3 linked regions of the Homo sapiens genome follow. The protein of the gene in region 1 interacts with the protein of each later gene in a biochemical or structural test. Each region holds a gene or a part of one and is shown in the gene's direction. Other genes may lie near its edges.

Region 1 (7,635 bases):
AATGAACTGCCTCAAGTTTTGATTTCTGGAAATGTCATAAGTTTGCCCTCACTTTTAAGGAAATTTTGCCGGCTGTACAATTTTAGGTTGAAAGTGGTTTCTTTCTAGAATTCTACAGCGTTGAAAGAAATCACTATCAACATAGAATTCCACTGCCTTGGAGATCAGGAGGCAGTAGGATGATATATTGAAAATTACTTATTCAGAAAACTACTTCTGATAAGAATTTGGTCAACTACTTATTAAGGATCCCTTAGATATGATGATTTACTTCCTTCTTCCTGCTTTCAAGATTCTCTCTTTTGATAATTTAATTATAATGTGTCTCAGTGTGGGTGTCATTGAATTCATTGAACTTGGAGTTTGTTGTGCTTTTTGGATGTGTAATTTTGCATTTTACAGAAATCATATAAATGGAACCATTTTAGAAACAGTGTGTAGCCTTTGAGACTGACTTTTTTTAAACTTACCAGTTTGCATTTAAAATTCATTCATATCTTTGTATTTCTTGATAGATCATTCCATGTTATCACTGCATAGTGTTCCACTGCATGGGTATAATCCACCGTGGTTTATCGATTCATTTATTGAAGGGCATCTTGGTAGATCACGCTTCTTGGAATTTATGAATAAAGCTGCTGCAATCATTTGAATGCAGGTTATTTTTTGTTGAAATATTTTGAAATGTACTAGATCAAAATTTGCTGGATCATATTGTAAAATTGTGTTTATCTCTGTAAGACTGTTAGTTTTGATTGTTCTAATAATGTTTATGTTTTATTTCATATATTTCTAACTTACAGTAGAATTTCAGCTCTCCCCATATTAGATTTCAAACAGTTTTTTTCCTCTTCAAAATTTTTCACAATTTTGTTCGTGTTTCCTTATTTTCCTTTTTGACTTTTTTTGGAAGGAAACCACAGCCTATGCACATTCACTATCTTGAAAAGATTCTTATGAGGAGAAGTGTCTGATTCATTCTATCATTTACCATATGTCCTTCTTAATCTCATTAACATTAAGCAACAGGAGTACTTTACATTACTAATAGCTCTTGAAATTATGCTCTTAAATATTCTGATCTAACATATAGAGAAAATAACAGTAGAATCTATAAGGTCTATTCACTTTGGGAAGGTTAGTGCTAATGAGCTATTCAGTTTCTTATAAGGATTTAGCCTAAAATTTAGGTAATTTGCCACCAGAAGAAATGTGATATTTGAATGAGTGTTTTTTATTAATGTCCTAAACAGCTAACCACATAACAGTAAACTAAATTGGAGGTAACATTATATATATTTTCACATGGAATGCTAAATATCTATGTATGTTAATATTTTACAAATGAACACATCCACATATTGCTATTTACTGTATTTAGATTTATTTTCTTGTATTAACTGAATTCAGAGGAAAGTCTTAGAGAGTACGAACAACTAGGAACTGATCTAAATTTCTGCTTAGATTAACTCTCATTTTTATCACATAAGAATAAACGTCAGGATCAGCCCATCTTATTATTTCTGCCCACTTCATTCAAATAATATATTTGCATTTGCTTTGTCCTAAAAACTTCTGGCACACAGTTAAAATAAGGATAATATAAAAGATCTTAAAGAGAAAGCAAGTATCTTTCTTAACCATAAACAACTTGAAATTGATATTTTGTCTCTATTTCTTTCATTAACAATGTGTTACTTTAGCATTTTGAGCACTATCTGTAGCCTGTGCTAAGTATTTATATGCAGTCTCTGATTTAATTGTTTTCTCATGACAATTTAGTGGTAGTTACTATTATTATCACCACGTTCTACTATCCTTACTACCTGTCCTGCTAATCATCCATCTCTTCCAATTTCATCATATTATGGCCAATTTATGCTTTCTATCCACCTGGCTCTTGGATAGTAGACAAACTCATTCCTGATTTTGTTATCCTAGAATGATCTCCCAATTTTGGTGAATGATTTCACAGACACATACAGCTATTGGGTGTCTGTGGTTACTACGATTCTCACATTTGGAGAGAACACCATTTGTAAACATCTGTGTGTATATGTCAATACTCTGAGGAAGGGGGATTATTATTGGAGTTTTCTTCGAGAGAGATTTTAGAAGGGATGTGATCAAATGTAGAGCTATTACAATAAAACTACTGCTACTTACATCCTGCCCCACCTTTAGTGTCTAGCCAATAATGCTTAAAAAAAACCCAAAAAACCCACTATCTCACTAACTGAGCAATGGACAGGCTTGTCTCTTGTTAGCTTTTCAAAGTAGAATTTTAAGATTCCTTACTCAATAATAGGTAACATTTGAAGCATACTTTGAAAAGTTAAATAAGAACATAAACATCATCTGTAATTATACCAGCCATATATAATCACATTTAGTATGTTGTTTTATGTTTCCCATCTTTTAATGAAAATGTTATCATGCTTTACATACATTTTTTAGTATAATTTGAATATTTTAAATAATATTACATAATCTCCCAAAACATTCTTCTTAATTACTTTCAGAATTCTACCATATGTTTATCTAATTCATCGAATTATGGAAGGACAATGGAGACTAAGCCTGCTATTCAGAAATAAAAGCAGAAGGCAGATATGCATGGGGACTGGTAGTTACCATTTCTCTTAACATATCAAGAATATTTTGCAACAATTCCTGTTTCTTTGTTTTTTCATATTTTATTTTAAATCTTCACTTGCCAGCACTATTTTGTATAGCAGAATGTATCATAGTAAAATGTGAGATAAAATGTTGAATCAAATATTACACCAAATAAAAGTTTTTGTTCTTTCCTGTCATTTTTATGAACTAATAATTCGTACTTAATGATCCCTTACAAAATTAGGAAGTAGAAATAATAGGAATGAATCTAAGGCTATCAGACTGTTAAGAAACATAAAGCTAAGCTCTTTAGACATGAAGATAGATGATAGATAAATAAAGACCCATGGAGTGCGTGTGTATGTGTGTGTGTGTGTGCATGTGTGAAGTATGCCTCGCTCCATGTATCAAGGCCTGGATGTCCTAACTTGGGGAAGCTGTGACTGTTAGCTGCCCCTCTTCATATTGTGGCCGTTCCTCATGTGGCTGCTCTGTGTGGAACTCTGAGTTTCAAGTTCACCACCTCAACTTGTAAAGTGAGCCTGTCTGAGATGCGGGGGGCACTAGGGCTGCTGCCATTCTAGTGCCTGCACTGGTGTGATAAGCCTCCTGTTGGAATGCGGTGTTCTCAGAAGGGGTGTCGCAGGGTGTGACTCAGACTGTGTTATCTCACACAGTGATCTCATCTGGCAGCAAATTCTTCAATTTTGCATGGCACAAATCAGATATTTCTTTAAGGATTTGTGTTTTAGATGTGATGTGAGGCTGTTGGGGAGTAGTAGGGGACCTATTGAGTAAAGGCCCTTTACTTTGCCCAGTGAAGTGCTTGACATGTGTAATAGTCTATAGGAAACACTTGGTGAGAACACCATTTGTAAACACCTGGCCTCAAGGTTCTGATATGTTGGCTCTATTTCTGTAGTGTCCTGGCCAGTGATGATCTTAGCCAAAAGCCCTTCCTTACTGACAGGAGAAATAGCAGTTCTGGGTACCTAACCTGCTTAACTGAGGGATGTGATGCTGGGTTCATTCAACACATGTTCTTCCTGGAGCATAGCTGGTGACTGCTCTGATGATTTTGTCTTTCCTCTTCCTCATTCCCCTTTCTTCTTATCTACTTACAAAACCACATTCTTGGAAAGCTTCCTGATTAATGGTCCAGATAAGGAAGCTCTAGCAATATCACTTTAAATGCTTAATATACAATATTTAGAAAACCTTATGATTGTAAAAGAGCTTAAAAAAGATGTGAAAGAACAATCACTAAATGCATTGACAACATATGTGTTAAGTGAACAATATGTACCAAAATGGACAGATGAGAGGTGTACATTGGGGTGTGAGTTGATAATCCAGCAGACTGTGGGACTAGAGGGTCTACGGAAAAAACAAAGGAAGAACATACAAACAAATTTTAAAACACTGTCTTTCAAACACCTAAAACCTGTTTGGAAATAGAGAGCAAGAATACATATTGGATTACACTTAGCTTTTATTTTCCTCTAGATTTCAGACTTTAAGTGCTCTGAACTTCTGCACTCTGCAAACCTACTTCTAATTATTTACATATGATAACATGAGTCTATGCAGCTTGTTCTCTATAGGATATTCACAGGACACTACAGAATGTTTTGGGAGATTATGTAATATTTAAAATATTCAAATTATACTAAAAATGTATGTAAAATGTATTGAACATAGGCAAGTTTCAATACATAGATTTTGAGTGAATGCTTGCAACTTTGGTTCCATTCTCTCTACTTCCTTAAGGTGGTGTCCAAGAGTACATTTTTATAAATAAAAAGTTATAGTACACATCCCTAAGGGCAGCAAGTAGAAAACGTGCTAGGGAGACTCGATCTCACTTTGGAATCTATCCTGGGAGACAAATGCCTCTACAAATGGATTAGAGAAGACAGTTTTAAAGAGGAAGATAATACAGGTAAAATCTGGGGTTTTATGAGAGAAAGAAAGAGGTAGAAGAAAAAATTTCAAGCTCGAACAGGGTCATCAGGTGGCACAATGCGGTCAATGCCTGCAAACTCAGGGGTAAGTATTATTCTCCCTGTTTACAGTTCCGTGGAGGAGAAGTGACTTGCCTGTGGTCATACAACAGAGCAAAGAAAAGGCTTGAGCTAGAACTCAGGCCTTTGTTAGGTCTCCCCTTCCTCCTAGCACATTGGCAAATTGCATGAGGAAAGTAGAGGTACAGTTGAGTTCATGTACAACAATAAGGCATTCAGGTAAAGTGAATGAGGGCAGAAGTTTTATGATTTAGGGAAGGTGTAAGACAGGAAAATATCTTTGTTCCCAATTAAGAAAGAGATCCCTTGACCATCAGTTAGAGATTCCCCCAAGTCCCTCTTTGCCATAAGTCACTGAAACTGAGATCCAAGGCATGGCTTCTGTGAGTCAGGAGAGCTTAACCCAGAGGAGAGATTTCAGAACAGGATATTTCCTATTTTGAGTATCCTGCTCATGCCAGTCATGGATAAATTTGCATCTGGCTTAAGAAATTACTGGATCAGCATTGTTTTGGGTAGTTTCACTTCCTGCTGGGTGGGGTAGCAGGCTCTATAAAGAGATCCTCTGCTGCACGACTCTTAAACCCCTGGTACCTGAGCACTGATCTGCCTTGGAGAACCTGGTGAGTCGGCTTCCTTGAGTTCCTCTGTTCTTTGTGCCCTGAAATGTTGAGTTTAATCTGAATATGGCAAGTTTGGTGGATCCAATCCTATGAAAATTGACTTGATGCTACTTAGTGGATGAAAATTTAAGATTAGAGCACAATTATATGCTATTTTAGCTTTCTTTTGTTATACAGGTAGGTATCCATATGGACAGAGAAGTTAAGGGGTAACCTTTGATATGAAGAAGAAAAAAGAACAAAGTATTTTTCTTTATTCTCTGTCTTTCTAGTGTCCTTTACAAAGGTTTGTGTCTTAGCAGGTGTGAAAGACTACAATTCTCCCTGAGCAGCCCTTTGCTCTATGCCCAAGTCAGCCCACTTGGACTTTATAACAGATAATGATGATAGGAATAGCATATTAGATTGCCCAGGGTGTCTGAACTTGTGACTGCCTTTCTTGAATTGGTTATTTTCAGGGAAATAAGATGCTTGATTCTTTATAACAGAGATAATTTATTTGGAAAAATTGTATGAGAAAACACAGGATTTCCTAGGGACAATGAAGCAATTTGTTAAAGTGGAAGGGAGAAACCAGAAAGTCTTGAAAAGGTAATTAAGAATTTAAATAATTTCTTGGAGATTGGAGAAATAATATGCCATGGTATTACACAAGCTTTGGCTTCTCTCTCTGGAGGATTCCCTTCCCACGAACACTGTTGTATCATTTCTTTCAGATCCTGAGACTCCAGCAGGATGTCTTATCAACAGCAGCAGTGCAAGCAGCCCTGCCAGCCACCTCCTGTGTGCCCCACGCCAAAGTGCCCAGAGCCATGTCCACCCCCGAAGTGCCCTGAGCCCTGCCCACCACCAAAGTGTCCACAGCCCTGCCCACCTCAGCAGTGCCAGCAGAAATATCCTCCTGTGACACCTTCCCCACCCTGCCAGTCAAAGTATCCACCGAAGAGCAAGTAACAGCTTCAGAATTCATCAGGACCAAGAAAGGATAAGGATATTTGGCTCACCTCGTTCCACAGCTCCACCTTCATCTTCTCATCAAAGCCTACCATGGATACACAGGGAGCTTCTTTCTCCTTAGCCAGTAATCTGCCCATGATGATCCCTGACAGCAAAAAGTTTCTTTTCTGAGGCTGCCATACTGCCACTGTCCAGGTGGAGACTGAGCAAAGGAAGTCCTGGGCTGTGCCAGCTCCCAGAGCTTCGGAAGAAAGAGCAGCAGCTCTCTCCCTGGGAACCATCAGAGAATTCTGTTGATGTGTTCTGTGTCTGTCTGTCACCTGGTCACGAGCTTCTACCACCTTTGCAATTGTCACTTATCTTTCACTCCCTGAATAAAGTATCTATGCATATATATTTGTGAATGGATCTTTTGTTTATTTTCAAATCTGCTTTATTAGCAATAGTATGTAATCTTTTGGATTTATTTCAATCTTTCTTTGATTCACAGCAGGATCTCACAATTGGAGTCATACCAAAGATTATTTCTGTATCATTTTAAACCCCTTTTATTTTCCCTAATTAGCATTTGATTGATTTGAGGAGGATATTATTCAACTTCTCTGAATTGACAACTTCTCTTTACTGCAAAGTGAGCAAAATAACATTTACATTACAAACTAGTCTAAGGCATAAAATTTGATTACTATCTGATATTTGGTTGGCACAATGCCTGACACGTAATTAGCTGTCATTTGATAGAGTTGTATTCGCAGCAACATATTATCATTGTTTTCACCATCACCATCCTCCTCCTCCTCCTCCTCATCATCATCACTCCCCACTACAACCACTACCATATTTGTTCCAGCAAGAGAGTGGCTTGGGTGTAACTAACATAGGAAATAAGAAGACTCTCTAATGTTATTTGTATTGATTCATAATACTTGTACACATTTACTGCATACATGTGATTTTTTACATGAATAGAATGTGTAATGATCAAGTCAGGATATCAGGAAATTTAGGGCATTCATCCCCTGCAGCATTTATCATTGTTCTTTATTGGGAACATTTTAATTCTAGCTATTTTGAAGAACACAGTACATTGTTGTATACCGTAGTCACCTTCCTCTGCTATCAAATATTAAAACTTACTCATTTTATGTATCCATATGTTTTTACTCGTTAACCAGTATTTCTTCATTCCCCATCCCCCTGAACACCCTTCCTTGCCTCTGGTATCTCTCATTCTACTCTCTACCTTTATAGATCATCATTTGTAGCTCCTACATATGAGTGAGAACATGCAATATTTGTCTTTCTCTGCTTGATTTATTTTACTTAACATAATGACCTCCAGTTCCATCTGTGTTGCTGCCAATGACAGGATTTCATTCATTTTATTACAATGGACTAGTATTTCATTGTGT
Region 2 (8,437 bases), on another chromosome or scaffold:
ATACAAAAAAACATTAGCTGGGTGCGGTGGCGGGCACCTGTAGTCCCAGCTAATCAGGAGGCTGAGGCAGGAGAATGGCGTGAACCCACGAGGCGGAGCTTGCAGTGAGCCAAGATCACGCCACTGCACTGCAGCCTGGGCAACAGAGGGAGACTCCATCTCAAACAACAACAACAACAAAAAACTTATAATTACCTCCATGAAATTTTTTTCCATATTTTATTTTTTATTCCTAGATTATTTTTGCTGTAGTAGTTGCAAATGGGCTTTCTTTTTTCCTTTTACATTTTCCAGTTGGTTATTAACTGGTATGGCAGAATGCTATTGATTTTTTTTAATGTAAATATTATGTACAGCATAATCTCAAACTCTTAATTAGTTCTGATGGTTTGGTTGAAATTCTCTTTAGTTTTGTGTAGCCAGTTCTGTCATTTACAGATAAGCTAGCATCCTTGTATTGGTCCTGACTTCCACTGGAGTGCTTCTGAAGTTTTACTGTTAAATGTGAAGTTTGCTTTTTGTTTTTGATAGATATCTTGTCAAAATTCTCTCTCTCTACCTTGCTCAGATTTATTTTATTTTATTTTTATTTCATTTTTATTTTTGTTTGAGATGGAGTCTCACTGTGTCTCCCAGGCTGGAGTGCAGAGACGCAATCTTGGCTCATGGCAACCTCTACCTCCTGGGTTCAAGTGATTCTCCTGCCTCAGTCTCCCGGACAGTTGAGACTACAGGCGCGTGCCACTCCGCCCAGCTAATTTTTGTATTTTTAATAGAGATGGGGTTTCACTATGTTGGCCAGGCTGGTCTTGAACTCCTGACCTCAGGTGATCTGCCCACCTAGGCCTCCCAAAGTGCTGAGATTACAGGTGTGAGTCACTATGCCCAGCCCTTACCTTGCTCAGATTTTTATTGTGAAGAAATATTAAATTTTATGAATGGCTTTTCTGCATCTGTTGAGACCATTGTATGTATTTTCGCTTTAGTATGAAAATGTGGGAATAGGAACAGCTCTGGTCTGCAGCTCCCAGCGTGATTGACGCACAGGACGGGTGATTTCTGTGTTTCCAACTGAGGTACCTGGTTCATCTCACTGGGACTGGTTGAACACTGGTCGCACCCCATGGAGGGTGAGCCAAATCGAGGCGGGGCATCACCTCACCCAGGAAGCGCAAGGGATTGGGGGATTTCCCTTTCCTAACCAAGGGATGCCGTGACAGACTATACCTGGAAAAATGGGACACTTCTGCCCAAATAGTGGGCTTTTTCCACAGTCTTAGCAACAAGCAGACCAGGAGATTCTCTCCCATGCCTGGCTTGACGGATCCTATACCCATGGAGCCTTGCTCAGTGCTAGCACAGCAGTCTGAGATCAATCTGCGAGGCAGCAGCCTGGCAGGGGGAGGGGAATCCACCATTGCTGAGGCTTGAGTAGGTAAACAGAGCGCCCAGGAAGCTTGAACTGGGAGGAGCCCACTGCAGCTCAGCAAGGCCTACTGCCTCCATAGACTTCAGCTCTGTGGGCAGGGCATAGCTGAGCAAAAGGCAGCAGAAACTTCTGTGGACTTAAACGTCCCTGTCTGATAGCTCTGAAGAGAGCAGTGGTTCTCCCAGCATGGTGTTTGAGCTCTGAGAACGGACAGACGGCCTCCTCAAGTGGGTCCCTGACCCCCGTGTAGCCTGACTGGGAAACACCTCCCAGTAGGGGCTGACAGACACCTCAAACAGGCAGGTGTCCCTCTGGGACAAAGCTTCCAGAGGAAGGATCAGGCAGCAATATTTGCTGTTCTGTAGCCTCTGCTGGTGATACCCAGGCAAACAGGGTCTGCAGTGGACCTCCAGCAAACTCCAACAGACCTGCAGCTGAGGGACGTGACCATTAGAAGGAAAACTAGTAGACAGAAAGGAATAGCTTCAACATCAACAAAAAGGACATCCACACCAAAACCCCATTTGTAGGTTACCAACATCAAAGACCAAAGGTAGATAAAACCACAAAGATGGGGAGAAACCAGAGCAGAAAAGCTGAAAATTCTAAAAATCAGAGCACCTCATCTCCTCCAAAGGATCGCAGCTCCTTGCCAGCAACGGAACAAAGCTGGACAGAGAATGACTTTGACGAGTTGACAGAAGTAGGCTTCAGAAGGTCGGCAATAACAAACTTCTCCGAGCTAAAGGAGCATGTTCTAACCCGTCGCAAAGAAGCTAAAAACCTTGAAAAAAGGTTAGATGAATGGCTTACTAGAATAAACAGTGTAGAGAAGACCTTAAATGACCTGATGGAGCTGAAAACCATGGCACAAGAACTTCGTGATGCACGCACAAGCTTCAATAGCTGATTCAATCAAGTGGAAAAAAGGATATCAGTAATTGAAGATCAAATTGATGAAATAAAGTGAGAAGACAAGATTAGAGAAAATGTTTATTGTATCAACCTTCTATTGTTGAACCATCCTTGCATTTCTCAATGAACTTTGATTAGTCTTGATTTTTTTCTGATATGCAATTCCAAATTCTATTCTAAACCAGTTGGAGTGGTTCACATTTGTAATCCTAGCATTTTGGAAGGCCAGGGCAGGAGGATTGCTTGAGGCCAGAAGTTCAAGACTAGTCTGAGCAACATAACAAGACTCTGTCTATAAAAAATTTTAAAATTGGCCAGGTGTAGTGGTGTGTGCCTGTAGTCCTAGCCACTAGGGAGGCTGAGGTGGGAGGATCCCTTTGAGTCCAGGAGTTCAAGGCTGCAGTGAGCTGTCATCATACCACTGCACTCCAGCCTGGGTGACATAGCAAGACCCTGTCTCCAAAAAGAAAAAGAACTCTATTCTAATATTGTGAGACTGTTGCATACATGTTCCTAGGTGAAATTGAATTTTTTTTCTTTGTACTATTCTGGTTTTGTATCAAAGTTTTATAGCTAGATAGGTTTTTCTGTTGAGTCTAATTTCCTTTTTTTTTTCAGACAGTGTCTCACTCTGCCACCCGGGCTGGAGTGCAGTGGTGCAGTCATGGCTCACTGCAGCTTCTACATCCTGGGATTAAGTGGTCCTCCTGCCTCAGCCTCCTGAGTAGCTGGGACTACAGGTGCATGCCACCATGCCCAACTAATTTTTATATTTTTAGTAGAGATGGAGTTTTGCCTTGTTTCCCAGGCTGGTCTCGAACTCCTGGGCTCAAGCAATCCTCTCACCTCAGCCTCCCAAAATGCTGGGATTACAGGCATGAGCCATCTCACCTGGCCTAATTCATTTCTTTATAGGCAGACTGCCTTCTCCTTAGTAGCCTTGATACGTTTGGTCCTCTAGCTTTATTATATTGTAACCAGGTAGGAATATACAGACACACACACACACACACACACACACATATTTTTTTTTTCTTCCTGCTTAGTATCCACAGTATTCAGTCTGAGGATTCATTTCTTTTTTTAATTCAGGAAAATGCTCATCAATTATACCTTTAAATATTATTTTAAGTTTTGTTTGAACACTAGTCTTTACTGTCTCTTCTTCTGTCAAGCATTATATCGGGACTAGTGTCTGCTATAAGTAACATTATCTGACTCACTGTGATTTGGACTATTAAGACATTTATTGTTTAGTTAGCAAGAAGTCTAGAGATCTGCCTTCTCAACATTGTCATCAAGGGACCTAAGTTTTTCCTGACTTCTTTTTTTTTTTTTTTTGTCAGCTCTCTTGACTTTTTGGCCATCTCTGTCTTTTGTTTTGTTTGTTTGTTTGTTTGTTTGTTTTGAAATAAGTTTCACTCTGTCACCAGGCTGGAGTGTGGTGACGCAATCACACCTCACTGCAGCTTCCATCTCCCAGGGCTCAAGCAGTCCTCCCACCTCAGCCTCCCGAGTGGCTGGGACCACAGGTAAGTGCCACAACGCCCAGCTAATTTTTGTATTTTTTGTAGAGATGGGTTTTTACCATGTTGCCAAGGCCGATCTTAAATTCCTGGGCTCAAGTGATCTTCCCACCTAGGTCTCCCAAAGTGCTGGGATTACAGGCATGAGCCACCACTCCCTCACCATCTCTGTCTTATTCTTTGCTCCTTTAAAAAGAATCTTACCCCACCCCTGATCTGGTTGCTTTCAATATTTTTTCTCTGTTTTAGTTTTCAGCAGTTTGCTTTGTTAGGCCTCAGTGTGGTCTTCTTTGTATTATCCTGGGTGGAATTCACAGGGATACTTGAATCTGACTTTGATGCCTCTTATTAATTCCAGAAAACTTTAAGCCATTATTTCTTTAAATATGGTTTCTATCTATTGTCACTTTACTCCTTTAACTCAACTTGCATATATACCCCATATGTCACTATACTCCCTGTATCTTACTCTCTTTTCTGTATTTATCCTTCTGTTTCTTATGCTTCATTCTGGGTATTTTCTTCCCATCTCTTTCCTAGTTCACTGATATTTTTCTTTCACTGTGTCTAATCTGGTATTAAACCAGTCATTGAGGCCGGGTGCAGTGGCTCATGCCTGTAATCCCAGCACTTTGGGAGGCCGAGGCGCGTGGATCACGAGGTCAGGAGATCGAGACCATCCTGGCTAACATGGTGAAGCCCCGTCTCTACTGAAAATACAAAAAATTAGCTGGGCGTGGTGGTGGGCGCCTGTAGTCCCAGCTACTCAGGAGGCTGAGGCCGGAGAATGGTATGAACCCAGGAGGCTGAGCTTGCAGTGAGCCGAGATCACGCCACTGCAGTCCAGCCTGGGCAACAGAGTGAGACTCCATCTAAGAACAAAAACAAAAACAAAAAAAACAGTCATTGAGTTCATAATTTCAGGTTTGGTTTGGTGTTGTTTTTAGTTGTAGAATCTTCATTTGGTCCTGCTTTATATTATAGTTCCTATTTTCTTTTGGAAAATCCCAATCTTGCCTTTTTTATTTGAATATATTCAACACAGTTGTTTAAAGTTTCTGCCTAATAAGTCTATAATAACTCTATTATCTAGATCCCCTTTGGAGCTCTTTGTATTATCTGAAGTTTCTTTTTTTGTTTGTTTGTTTTGTTTTTGAGACAGTCTCACTCTGTTGCCCAGGCTGGAGTGCAGTGGCGTGATCTCGGCTCATTGCAACCTCTGCCACCCAGGTTCAAGCAATTCTCCTGCCTGAGCCTCCCCCGTAGCTGGGATTACAGGCACCTGCCACTGCACCCAGCTAATTTTTTATAGTTTTTAATAGAGACGGGGTTTCACCATCTTGGCCAGGCTGGTCTTGAACTCCTGACCTCATGATCCACCCATAATTTTGTTATGTAAGCCCTATCATTATTATTATTATTATCATTATTATTATTATTATTAAGACAGAGTCTTGCTCTGTTGCCCAGGCTGGAGTGCAGTGGTACAATCTCGGCTCACTACAACCCCTGTCACCCAGGTTCGAGTGATTCTTGTGCTTCAGCCACCTGAGTAGCTGGGATTACAGGCATTCGCCACCACACCTGGCTAATTTTTGTATTTTTAGTAGAGACAGGGTTTCGCCATGCTGGACAGGCTGGTCTCAAACTCTTGGATTCAAGTGACCCACCTGCCTCAGCCTCCCAAAGTGCTGGGATTATAGGAGTGAGCCACCATGCCCAGCCAAGCCCGTTTATTTTTTAATGAGAGCTGCACATTGTATATAGACAGTTTAATGTGATTTGAGGCCTAAGGATATCTTTCTCTAAAGACTTTTCCTTTTGACCAGAATGTTAGGCCACTAACAATCTAGAATCACTTTAATCCAATAAAGGATTGAGCTGATTTAAAACTTGGTTTTCATTCCTGCCAGGTAGTCCATTTCCTGTTAACCTTTTCACCCTTTCTACTAGCATATTTCCCTTTTTAAGGTCCCAATCTGAAGTGTGAGGGTTCCCTATGGCTTTCCTCTTTAGGGTTCTGAACTCCAGTTTATGGCTCCTTAGCCCAGGGAGTCTTAAAATCTCTGCCCAGCTTCTCATCCTGTCAACCATCTCTTCTGGAATTGGCCCTGGTTTCTAGAGAAACGCCTGAAAAGATCTGGCTCTCTGGGTTTTTTTTTTCCTCCTTGATTTTGTCTCCAGAATTCTTCGGTGCCTCGTTCTCTAATGCTTTAAACAGAATTCCTTCCTATTTCCTTCCCTTCTAGTTCATTGGGAGGGTTAATCTAATTACCTCGACAACCATTACTTAAAATAGAATTCCCAAGTTCTGTATTTCCATTCTGCTCCTTAGTGTACAGCAGCTAATTTTCTTCTTGACCGGTAGTTGAAAAACGGTTCCAGTGGCTGTGGCCACCTTTTCTTTTTTCTTTTTTTTTTTTTTTTTTGAGACGGAGTCTCACTCTGTCGCCCAGGCCGGAGTGCAGTGGTGCTATCTCGGCTCACCTCAACCTCTGTCCGCTTCCCAGGTTCAAGCAATTCTCTGCCTCAGCCACCCGAGGAGCTGAGATTACAGGCGCCCACCACCACGCGTGGCTAATTTTTGTATTTTTAGTAGAGACAGTATTTCACCATCTTGGCCAGGCTGGTCTTGAACTCCTGACATTGTGATCCACCCACCTCAGCCTCCCAAAGTGCTGGGATTGCAGACATGAGCCACCACGCCTGGCCTGTGGCCACCTTTTCTAAGATTTCTAATGGAATTTTTAAAATATTTAAATGTTTTTATTTAATTTCAATTTTTATTTCACAGATATTATTTCATTTCTCTCTCTGATAATTTTTAACATATCTAAAATCATTCCTGAGCTGTTATATAAAATTAGTTTTTTTAAATTGGGTTTTATACTTGCTGATTTTTGTTGGCTTTGTTTCTTAGTGTTTTTATTTCTTCATGTGTGTGGCATTTTTGAGATGGTCATTTTGAGTAGTAATTTTGGAGTTCTGTTTTCTCTCCTTTCCCTCTTCCATGTTCCCCTCTCTCTATCTAATAGGTGTCCTGTTGCCTCTCCCTGTTCCCTCTACCTACCACTTAGGTAAGAATCAGGTGTAAAAACAGTGGGTCAGACTGGGCATGGTGGCTCACACCTGTAATCTTAGCTCTTTGGGAGGCCAAGGCAGGAGGATTGCTTGAGCCCAGGAGTTGGAAACCAGCCTCTCAAGATGTAGCGAGAACCCATTTCTACAAAAAATATCAAAAAGAAAAAAAAAAAAAAAGGCAGGCATGGTGGTGCACGCCTGTAGTCCCAGCTACTTGGGAAGCTGAGGTGGGAGGGATCGCTTGAGCCTAGGAGTTTGAGGTTGCAGTGAGCCGTGATTGCACCACTGAACTCCAGCTTGGGTGACAGAGTGAGACTCTGTCTCAAAAAAAAAAAAAACAAAACACACACACACACACAAAAACAGCGAGTTAGATTAAGGATATCACACATCAAGTCGGTCAGTTGTTTCATTTCCTGGGCTGGAGGCCTTATCACAGTCCTCTCCCTCTCTTAGTTCTGTAACTTTCTCAAAATATTAAACTGTCATCAGCAAATTTTATAATCTCTTTGTAGGAGTCAAGGTGGCACATCCTCATTCCCAGCCTCAAGCATTGAACTGGTTCCATTTTAATGGAGCACTTTTCGTTTTTGTTACTTCATTGAAGCCTGCATCTTGGCTGTCACTGCCTGATTACAGAACCAGAATTGAGTAGGCCCGTAGCTTCAGCCCTCCTTACCATTTTACATTTCTGTTTAGTTTCTCTTCCATAAGTCTGTCTTGTGTTAAATCTAGATAATGTCTGTTTGTTTGTCTCTCTGTTTTCTCTATTATTGCTTATACTTGGGAGCAGAACTGTTTCATTAAAGCCTGAATGCACTGCACTATCTGGCCGTTCACTGGCTCCTTTTAAGTTTTGTTCCATTTTTAAATATCAGATCCAATAAAAGAAAAAAAAATAGAGTTCTAGTAGCTTGTTTATAATATTACGATACAAGTCTAAATTAAAACTTTAGCCTGGATTAGAAAATTACCATTTTGCAGTTCCACATCTAATATTTGTTTCAGGCAAGGATGATGAATCGATGCTAAACTATCAAATGAACAGTTGCTGAGGAATAGAATATTTGTGGTACAAAACTGTCATCCCATAGATTATATACTAATTACAAAGGGAAAGATACATTTTAATGGAAAGATCTAATAGTCACCTCCTTAACCAACTAATCAAATTTAGCTTCACAAATGCGCCTCCTAAAGTAATACTGTGTGAAGTAAACAACATCACTTATGAATTATTCTTGCCAAAAAATATTGAACCTGATTGCAATCAAACCGTTAAATGCAATCTTAATTTAATAGGAGGCGAAATAAGAGTACAAGTTAAACAACACTTGGGGGAAACACAAATCTGGGGGTAGGACATTTCTTTCTTTTCTTTTTTTTTTTTTTTGAAACAGAGTCTCACTGTGTCACCCAGACTGGAGGGCAGTGGCATGATCTCAGCTCACTGCAACAGCCGCCTCTGGGGTTCAAGCGATTCTCC
Region 3 (8,437 bases), on another chromosome or scaffold:
TGTCTAATGCTTTGTGTTTGAACCCTGTTCCAGTCAGCTGTCGGCCACGAATATCAGTCGAAACTTTCCAAGCACTGCTCGCAGGTGGACTCGGTCCGTGGCTTCGGAGGCAAGTTTGGTGTCCAGATGGACAGAGTTGATCAGGTGAGTGATGTGGCACTGGGACTGGGGCAGGTTGGGGCAAGGGGGGCGTTCCCCGTAGATCTGAGCCCTGTTGGGCCACTTGTAGTAGCAGGCAGGTGCCCTCCAGCTCTGGGGGACTGCAGAGAGGGGCATCTGCCTCCCAGGATGCTCTGAGAGCCTGGGCTCTCAGAGAGAGGAAGCAGGATGCGGCGGGCTTGCTGTAGCAGTCCCTGCGGTCGCTCTTCACTACGTGCCTCAGTACTGGATGGCCCTGTGTCTGTCCCAATGTGCCAGCAGGGACCGTTTCCACCCGTGTTTCTCACATGTGTGTTACTGTGACAGAGTGACATCAGAGCCTATACCGGGGGGGCAGGATGCGCTCGTGTCCAGGACCCAGGCTTTGCGTCCAGGTGTTGTTGCAGTCATCCTAGGCCCGAGCCTCTTTGATTCTCTTCGGCTCGGGTCTGTTGGCTCTTTTGTTTAATAGAGGAGCGATCAGGAGCCTGGAGGGAGCAGGGAGCTGATGCTGGTCGCAGATTGTGGCTTTGTGACATATTAGCCACGGTTCTGAATTTATGTGTCTGTGAAAGGAGGATGATCATACCTATCTCACGGGTGTTTGCTCAGATGCCCATCGCAGTGCCTGGCTGGTGGGAGTGCACCCCTGGTGGCCACTGCTATTCTCATTACTAATACTAATGTTCTCAGCATGACTTATTTGAGAAGCGAGTTTTTGTGAAGCCCGTGGAATGAATCAGCTGAGCATTCCCTGCTGCCGCATGCTGGGGAGGGCAGGTCACCAGGGATATGGCTTGGCCTGCGCCGCCCACTGGGCCTTGCAGTGGGCCTGTCCGTTTAGGATGCCAGAGCTCTTGCGTCACTGCCACCTGCACCTGGCTTAGGAACCCAGAGGTCACAGCATCATGTGTTTCATATTTTTTTAAATGTCATGTCATGAATTCAGAGAGATTGTTTCAGGGACATTGGAAAGTATTTCTCCCCACTTTTTCATGTGTTTTTGGTCGTCACAGTCTGCTGTAGGCTTTGAATACCAGGGGAAGACTGAGAAGCATGCCTCCCAGAAAGGTAAGACGCGAAAGGTGCAGAAAGAGCCCGCTCCGGGGGCCCCGATGGGGAGAGTCACAGCCACCTGAAGCCGTTTCCCCGCGCTCCGGGGGCCCTGATGGGGAGAGTCACAGCCACCTGAAGCCGTTTCCTGAGCGGTGGCTGTTGCCACAAGGAGGACTCTGCCCTCCTCTTCATGTTTCTGGATCATCTGGATACCACATGATGGATGTATTCCCCGTTACACATCCCCCTCGGAGCCCTGGCATCTGCTGTCATTGTGGGGCTTCTCCCCCTTGTAGCGGAAGCCGCCTTCCCTTCATCTGGGCAGCGCTCCTCCTGGAAAAGAGAGCTCACAGATTGATCGGCAGAAAGCTAACTTCCCCCCAAGGCTAGAAACCAGAGTTGTTAAATTCTTGTTTTCCTTATACACATACGGTCTTAACTGCTGGTGATTAATCTTGATTACATCATGCAGTCTCTTTTTTGAAAGACCAAAGCATATCGCCACCTTAAAGTTCTCAGTTTATTTTTTGCAAGCTTATTTAGTTCTTCCTCCTTTGTGTCATTGCATCATCCGCGGAACAAGCTCTCAGTCCTTACGCAGTCTCGGTGCAGTCTAGGTGGAGGTAGCTGTGGTGTGGGCAGGCGGAGGATCAGGGTCTTGTCTCCCATGTTCAGCTGCATGGCTTTCTTCATATGAGGCTTTCTCTTTCCATTTTTTTCATTTTGTTTTGTTTGTTTGTTTGTTTTGAGACAGAGTCTCGCTCTGTTGCCCAGGCTGGAGTGCAGTGGCACGATCTCGGCTCACTGCAACCTGCGCCTCCTGGGTTCAAACGATTCTCCTGCCTCAGCCTCCCAAGTAGCTGGGATTACAGGTGTGTGCCACTACCCCTGGCTAGTTTTTCTATTTTTTAGTAAAGATGGGGTTTTGCCACGTTGGCCAGGCTGGTCTCAAACTCCTGGCCTCAAGTGATCCGCCCACCTCAGCCTCCAAAGTGCTGGTTCTTTGTATGAAGCTTTCCAGCTTTTACCTGAGCAGTTGATTTTCAAAGTGGGCATGCAGCGTCATTTCTGACTACACAAAGGAACTGCCCTGTAACAGCTGACAGGGCCCAGAACCCCCCCATGCACCTGTTGTGAAACAGGGTCCAGCGTCACCTGTATGGAGCAGTGGGTGGCTTGTTGTACATTTTAAAATGTGCGCTTGATGTGTTTGTGAGTTGTAACCCCTACACACTTTTGCTTAGTTTAACAAAAGGAACAGTGTAGTTCGTCCTCAGGCCCCCGTGCTAATTGCTGCCCTGTCTCTCCAGACTACTCCAGTGGTTTTGGCGGCAAGTATGGCGTGCAGGCCGACCGAGTAGACAAGAGCGCGGTGGGCTTCGACTACCAGGGCAAGACGGAGAAGCACGAGTCACAGAGAGGTGGGGCGGACCCCACGGTCTGTAATCACGCGTTTGCTCCAGAAACACCCACGAGGGCATTTTCTCTCTGCACACGTGATTGTTGTAGATTTTTTAACTGAAAATGTTTGGTGTTCTTTTCGTACCAGTGTATGTGGGCTTTTCCTAATTCGAATGGCTGCACAGTTCCCCATCGTATGAGGATTCCATAGTCCATGTAACCATTCCTTTTTTGAATGTGGAATTTAGGTTATTTATTTATTTATTTATTTATTTTTGGTAGAGATGAGGTCTTGCCGTGTTGCCCGGACTGGTCTTGATCTCCGTGGTCTCAAGCAATCCTCCCCCACCTTGGTTTCCTTAAGTGCTGGGATTACAGGTGTGACCTGTAAATTTTTTTTTTTTTTCTTTTAGACGGAGTCTCGCTCCGTTGCCCAGGCTGGAGTGTAGTGGCGTGATCTCTGCTCACTGCAACCTCCACCTCCCTGGTTCAAGCAATTCTCGTGCTTCAGCCTCCCGGCTAGCCGGGATTACAAGCACACGCCACCACGCCCAGCTAATTTTTGTATTTTTAGTAGAGACGGAGTTCTGCCATGTTGCCCAGGCTGGTCTTGAATTCCTGACCTCAGGTGATCGCCCTGCCTTGGCCTCCCAAAGTGCTGGGATTACAGGTGTGAGCCACTGCGCCCAGCTGAAACTTGACTGCAGGGAACATTCTTGTACCTGTGTTTTGTTCACAAGTGATTATTCAAAAGAATCAACTCCTAGACATGGAATTGCTGGGTCGAAGGCTATTGAATGTAAAATTTCCATAGATACTGCCAAGTTGTCCTTGGAGGCTGTGCTGAGTTCTTCCTTCCCCACTGCATAGCCTGTACACCATCACTCAGAGCGTTTCCCAGGGCTGCAGAGGCTGTGGCCTGCCTGTTTCCCTGTGCCTCTTGTTTGGCCTGCACATTTAAATTTTTAAAAATATTTGCCAACATTTGAAAAGTGAGAGCTTGACTATTTAAAAACTCAAAAAAAAAAAAAATTACCCCAAAGCAAGAAACACCACTGGAAGATCCGACCATGCTGGCTTGGCATTTCCCTGAGGAAAGTGCCGGTGGCCTGGAGGGCAGCTTGGCTTGTAGTTTGTCGCGGCCTGGCCTGGCCTTGCCTTCCTGCCGGTCAGGCCTTGCCTGCCGCACAGAGCTGCTTGCCTCTGCTCTCTGCCTCTTTCCTGGGAACAGTCCATTCCTCCTCTTCCCGACACCACACAGTTGTGAGCAGCGCATGCTCCGCGAAGCTGCATGAGTGTGTGACTCCAGGGAGCCAGGGAGCACAGGCCGAGCACCTGGGCAGACGCAAGGCTCCTTGGATGCTTCAGGCCTTCTCTCCCAGGCCTTGATCCTCTGCCTTGTGCTGTTAGTGGGTCCATGAGAGAGTCATGTTTTGGTGTCACAGTGACATGCTAAATGGCTTCATTCTGAGTAGAACTGAAGTTTCTGGAGGATGCTGTGTGTGTCCTATTTCCTGGCATCCCCCTGCGTGCTTCAGTTTGTGAAGAGTGGCCTTTGAAAGCCTTGCCCTTCTGCTGCCTCCTGAGCTTAGAGCCTTATCATAAACTCTCATCTCCTGCTAGCTTCTGGATGCAATGGATGATGTTACAGGAATTCATCTGCTGTACTTTATTTCTTTTTTTTTTTTTTTTGAGACGGAGTCTCTCTCTCTCGCCAGGCTGGAGTGCAGTGGTGCGATCTCAGCTCAGTGCAACCTCCTCCTTCCGGGTTCAAACAATTCTCCTGCCTCAGTCTCCTGAGTAGCCGGGATTACAGGCATGCACCACCAAGCCCAGCTAATTTTTGTATTTTTAGTAGAGGCGGGGTTTCACCATGTTGCCCAGGATGGTCTTGATCTCTTGACCTCATGATCCGCCCACCTTGGCCTCCCAAAGTGCTGGGATTACAGGTGTGAGCCACTGTGTCCAGCCTCTGCTGTACTTTAAAAAAAAAAACTTTTTTTCTTAATTCTTTTTTTTTTTTTGAGATGGAGTTTCACTCTTGTTGCTCAGGCTGGAGTGCAGTGGCGCAATCTCGGCTCACTGCAACCTTCACCTCCTGGGTTCCAGTGATTCTTCTGCCTCAGCCTCCCGAGTAGCTGGGATTACAGGTGTGGGCCACCACGCCCAGCTAATTTTGTATTTTTAGTAGAGATGGGGTTTCATAATGTTGGTCAGGCTGGACTTAAACCCCTGACCTCAGGTGATCCACCCACCTCGACCTCCCAAAGTGCTGTGATTACAGGCGTGAGCCCCCTCCCCCAGCCTGTTTTTTGAATTTTTAAAATATTAGCTAATGATTTAACTTAGAGATGGGGTCTTGCTATGTTGCTCAGGCTGGACTCCGCCTCCTGGGCTCAAGTGATCCTCCCTTCTCAGCCTCCTGAGTAGCTGGGCTGCAGGCACACACCCCCACCTCTGGTTACCACTGTTTGTGTTTCTGTTATTACACATAAATAGCACCTTTAAATACTGTCTGTATTATTCAGTGGTCCTACAGTGGACCTGAAAGATTTTTGTTTTTTTAATCAAAGGATAAAATACTTGCATGTTCACTGATTTCGTTGCTCCTTTTAAAGTAGTCCTTTTTTGTTTGTTTTTAGATTACTCCAAAGGTTTCGGCGGCAAATACGGTATCGACAAGGACAAAGTGGATAAGAGCGCCGTTGGCTTTGAGTATCAAGGCAAAACGGAGAAGCACGAGTCCCAGAAAGGTGTCTTCCGTTTTATCTTACCCTCCAGCCAGCAGCTAGTAATGTGACAGGTGGTAGCCACACCGGAAAAGGAAAAACAAAGCGTTATTGATAGCCCTTAACGTAGATGTCTCTTTTTCATGAAATGCCCAACTTGAAAACGGCACATCCAGAAACACAGCTGCTAAATAGGAACTCGCAGCTTGAGTGTTATGGCGCTCCAGCCCCAGCGGCGTTGCTTATCGTGGTGGCCACACCCCGCACGTCTGTGTTGCCCGTGTGAGCCTGTGCTGTCTCATGGTGCGGGTGGAAGCCGCATGCGTGGGAGCTTCCATGGGGTCCTGTCTGGCTTAGTCACGATGCTGAGGTCATAGACTAGGTTATTTCCTGCCACTCTCCAAGGAGGGCCTCTTCATGGATGTTATCTAAAGTATTACCAAAGATCCGGAAGGGAAGAGTAGATTGAGTGAATCATATGCGTTTAACTGTATTGAAAACATACTTTCCACCTGTGACCTGCACTACCTGTTAATGATGGGTTCTGGCCTTTCATTGTGCATGTAGACTATGTGAAAGGGTTTGGAGGAAAATTTGGTGTGCAGACAGACAGACAAGACAAATGTGCCCTTGGCTGGGATCACCAGGAGAAATTGCAGCTGCATGAATCCCAAAAAGGTACATTCACTCTGCCTGTATGCGAGATGGTTTTAGAAGTTTGTTTTTGTTCCTTGCGGGGTCAGTTGGTATGTGTTGTGTCTGCGTGTGCCTGCTGCACATTGTTTTGTCTTCACTGTTTGAAGTTGTCCTGTGTGCCCCCCCAATCCCCCAGTTCCCTCCAGCTAGTGTAGTCACAAACCCTCCCTGCTGACACGGGGTGGTACCCCAGAGAGCTGGGTTTACCTGGAAGTGGGTTGCACGGGCCAAGCCTGCAGCAGGGGGCTGGGTTTACCCAGGAGTGGGGACATGGGTCAAGCCTGCAGCGGGGGGCTGGGTTTACCCGGGAGTGGGGGCATGTGTCAGGCCTGCAGCGGGGGGCTGGGTTTACCCGGGAGTGGGGACATGGGCCAAGCCTGCAGTGCTCCTCATCCAGGCTTCTTGTCTATAAAGTGGGCCACGGTTTTTGGCAGGAGATACTTACTTTTGAACCGAAAGTGTTTTCTTGTTGGAATGGGTGCCCCTTCCCTGGAAAAAGGAGCCTGAGGGGGCTGAAAGCCTCTCAGTGTGACCCAGCCCTGAGAGAAGCAGGAGCGGGGCTAATGGGGCTGCAGCGCCCTCCGAATCTGCAGGGTCTCTCCTCCCGTGTACACAGATACGCACACTCGTCTGCAGTGTGCGTAGGACGCTAAGAATGAACTGCACAGCCGGGAGTGCCTTTACTGAATTATTTGAAGTACAGTTCTTAGGCTGTTCCAGATCTTCGCTGAATGTTCAGATTTTAAGTTCATTCTTTAACGTTGACCTCTGGAGCCACCTTCTGGCGCTGAGCCTGGGAGTAGGATCTCAAAGGCCCTAAGCTCAGGAGAGCCCTTGCTTTCTGGAAACTGTGTTTGATTTTTGCGCATGCTCATGCAATTCTAACCCAACTGTGTTTCCTCTTTTGGTTGTTTTCCCCACCGTTGCTTGTGGATTTTCAGATTATAAGACTGGTTTTGGAGGCAAATTCGGTGTTCAGTCGGAGAGGCAGGACTCCGCTGCTGTGGGGTTTGATTACAAGGAGAAGCTGGCCAAGCACGAGTCCCAGCAAGGCACAGTTGCCACCAGCCTCCTACCCTCCCCCCGACCCTCCTGTGCGGCCACTTCTAGCACAGACTTCAGGGCTCACCGTCAGCACCTGCAACACAGTCCTCCTGTGTCACCACTTGTCAGCTGTCAGGCTGTTCGGCACTTTAAACCCATTTCTAGTAGAGCGACACTGATTTTGAGTGGTTCACTTTCTTCCCTGTGAACTTGTGATCTGTGTATGGCAGGATGCGCCAGTTAGTGTGTGGGTGCCATCTTTCTAACCCGGTGACCCATCCAGTCTCTGGACTGGGGCATCTCCGGTCTCCAGCAGCATTCTGCCCGAGGCTGTTCTGCTGTTATTGGTGACTGCCGTGAGCCACTGAGTCAGGCCTTCCAGATGAGGAGAGAGGTGTTGGTTCAACCAAACCACTGGCCATTTGACCAGGGGCTTCGTAGCAGCAAGGGCCAGGAGACAGGCGTGTTCTGTGTGGTTTCTGTGTTTCATTTGTGGTGGTGTTTTTGGCCGGGGTTGGGAGGTTTTTTGTTTGTTCTGTTTGATGACACCATATGTGTGTAACATCTCCACACAGAGCCACACAGTATGTACGTGAAGCCAGCTCTGCATCCTTCCTTAGAGCAGTTATGTTGTTACCTTCAAAATTTGGACTTGGTTATTAGAACCTGAACACATAATTGGAAAAACAGTAATTCCCTAACCTTGCAGGGAAGACTCTAGGCTTTCCACCTGCAGCGTTAGAAACACACAGCAGTGTTCAGGTGTGGGCAGGTAGACACACCTGGGGTGGTCCCGCAGACTGCATGGAGATGGCAGTGGCTCTCCGTGGCATCACTGCTGCATGACAGTGTGACTTTCATGTGGATCTGTGTTGCTGCAACGGAAGTCTTTGGCTGGTAGAATTTCCACATGGATTTTTTTTTTCTCTTAAAAAGCAAGAGAACAAACTGCGATTGAGCCTCTTTTTAGCGCTCAGTAGAGCAGGCGCACAGGAAGCAGATGAGAATAAGCCCGTGCTGGTGCGGAAGACTGTGCTATTGAAGTGGCGCGTTGCAAAGGCCTGTCCGTGCCCTCTTTCCTCGCTTAGCTCCTGCCTGCTGCCCGCCGCCCCTCCTGCCCCTCCTGCCCCTCAGGGAATGCTGAAGCCTCTGCCCCTGGCCTGTGCTCTGCTTCTCACTGCCTGTGTCTCACGACCATGGGTGGAAGCAAAACTTGCCTTGCAAGTGAAGCCTCGCTTGGCCATTCTCGTTTCTTCCCGCTGTGGTGCACCTTCTTGGGCTGTTTCTGGATCTGTCTGCATGCACCCACGGCCACCCCCATGCTCGCCTCCACCTCAGAGTAAGTGTTGTGTTTTGCCACGTTTCAGACTACT

Evidence for each region.
Region 2: the proteins of SPRR2A (region 1) and PEX13 form a complex in vitro, tested with the Homo sapiens proteins (one study listed by BioGRID).
Region 3: the proteins of SPRR2A (region 1) and CTTN form a complex in vitro, tested with the Homo sapiens proteins (one study listed by BioGRID and IntAct).

The regions. Positions count from the first base shown.
Region 1 is NC_000001.11:153,055,102-153,062,736, reverse strand, and holds SPRR2A (small proline-rich protein 2A), read left to right. Parts: upstream 1-5,224; 5' UTR 5,225-5,266; intron 5,267-5,982; 5' UTR 5,983-6,001; coding exon 6,002-6,220; 3' UTR 6,221-6,617; downstream 6,618-7,635. UniProt on the Homo sapiens protein: Gut bactericidal protein that selectively kills Gram-positive bacteria by binding to negatively charged lipids on bacterial membranes, leading to bacterial membrane permeabilization and disruption.
Region 2 is NC_000002.12:61,020,064-61,028,500, forward strand, and holds part of PEX13 (peroxisome biogenesis factor 13), read left to right. Parts: intron 1-8,437. UniProt on the Homo sapiens protein: Component of the PEX13-PEX14 docking complex, a translocon channel that specifically mediates the import of peroxisomal cargo proteins bound to PEX5 receptor.
Region 3 is NC_000011.10:70,414,509-70,422,945, forward strand, and holds part of CTTN (src substrate cortactin), read left to right. Parts: intron 1-33; coding exon 34-144; intron 145-1,154; coding exon 1,155-1,209; intron 1,210-2,504; coding exon 2,505-2,615; intron 2,616-5,237; coding exon 5,238-5,348; intron 5,349-5,891; coding exon 5,892-6,002; intron 6,003-6,961; coding exon 6,962-7,072; intron 7,073-8,000; coding exon of another isoform or gene 8,001-8,044; exon of another isoform or gene 8,045-8,431; coding exon 8,432-8,437.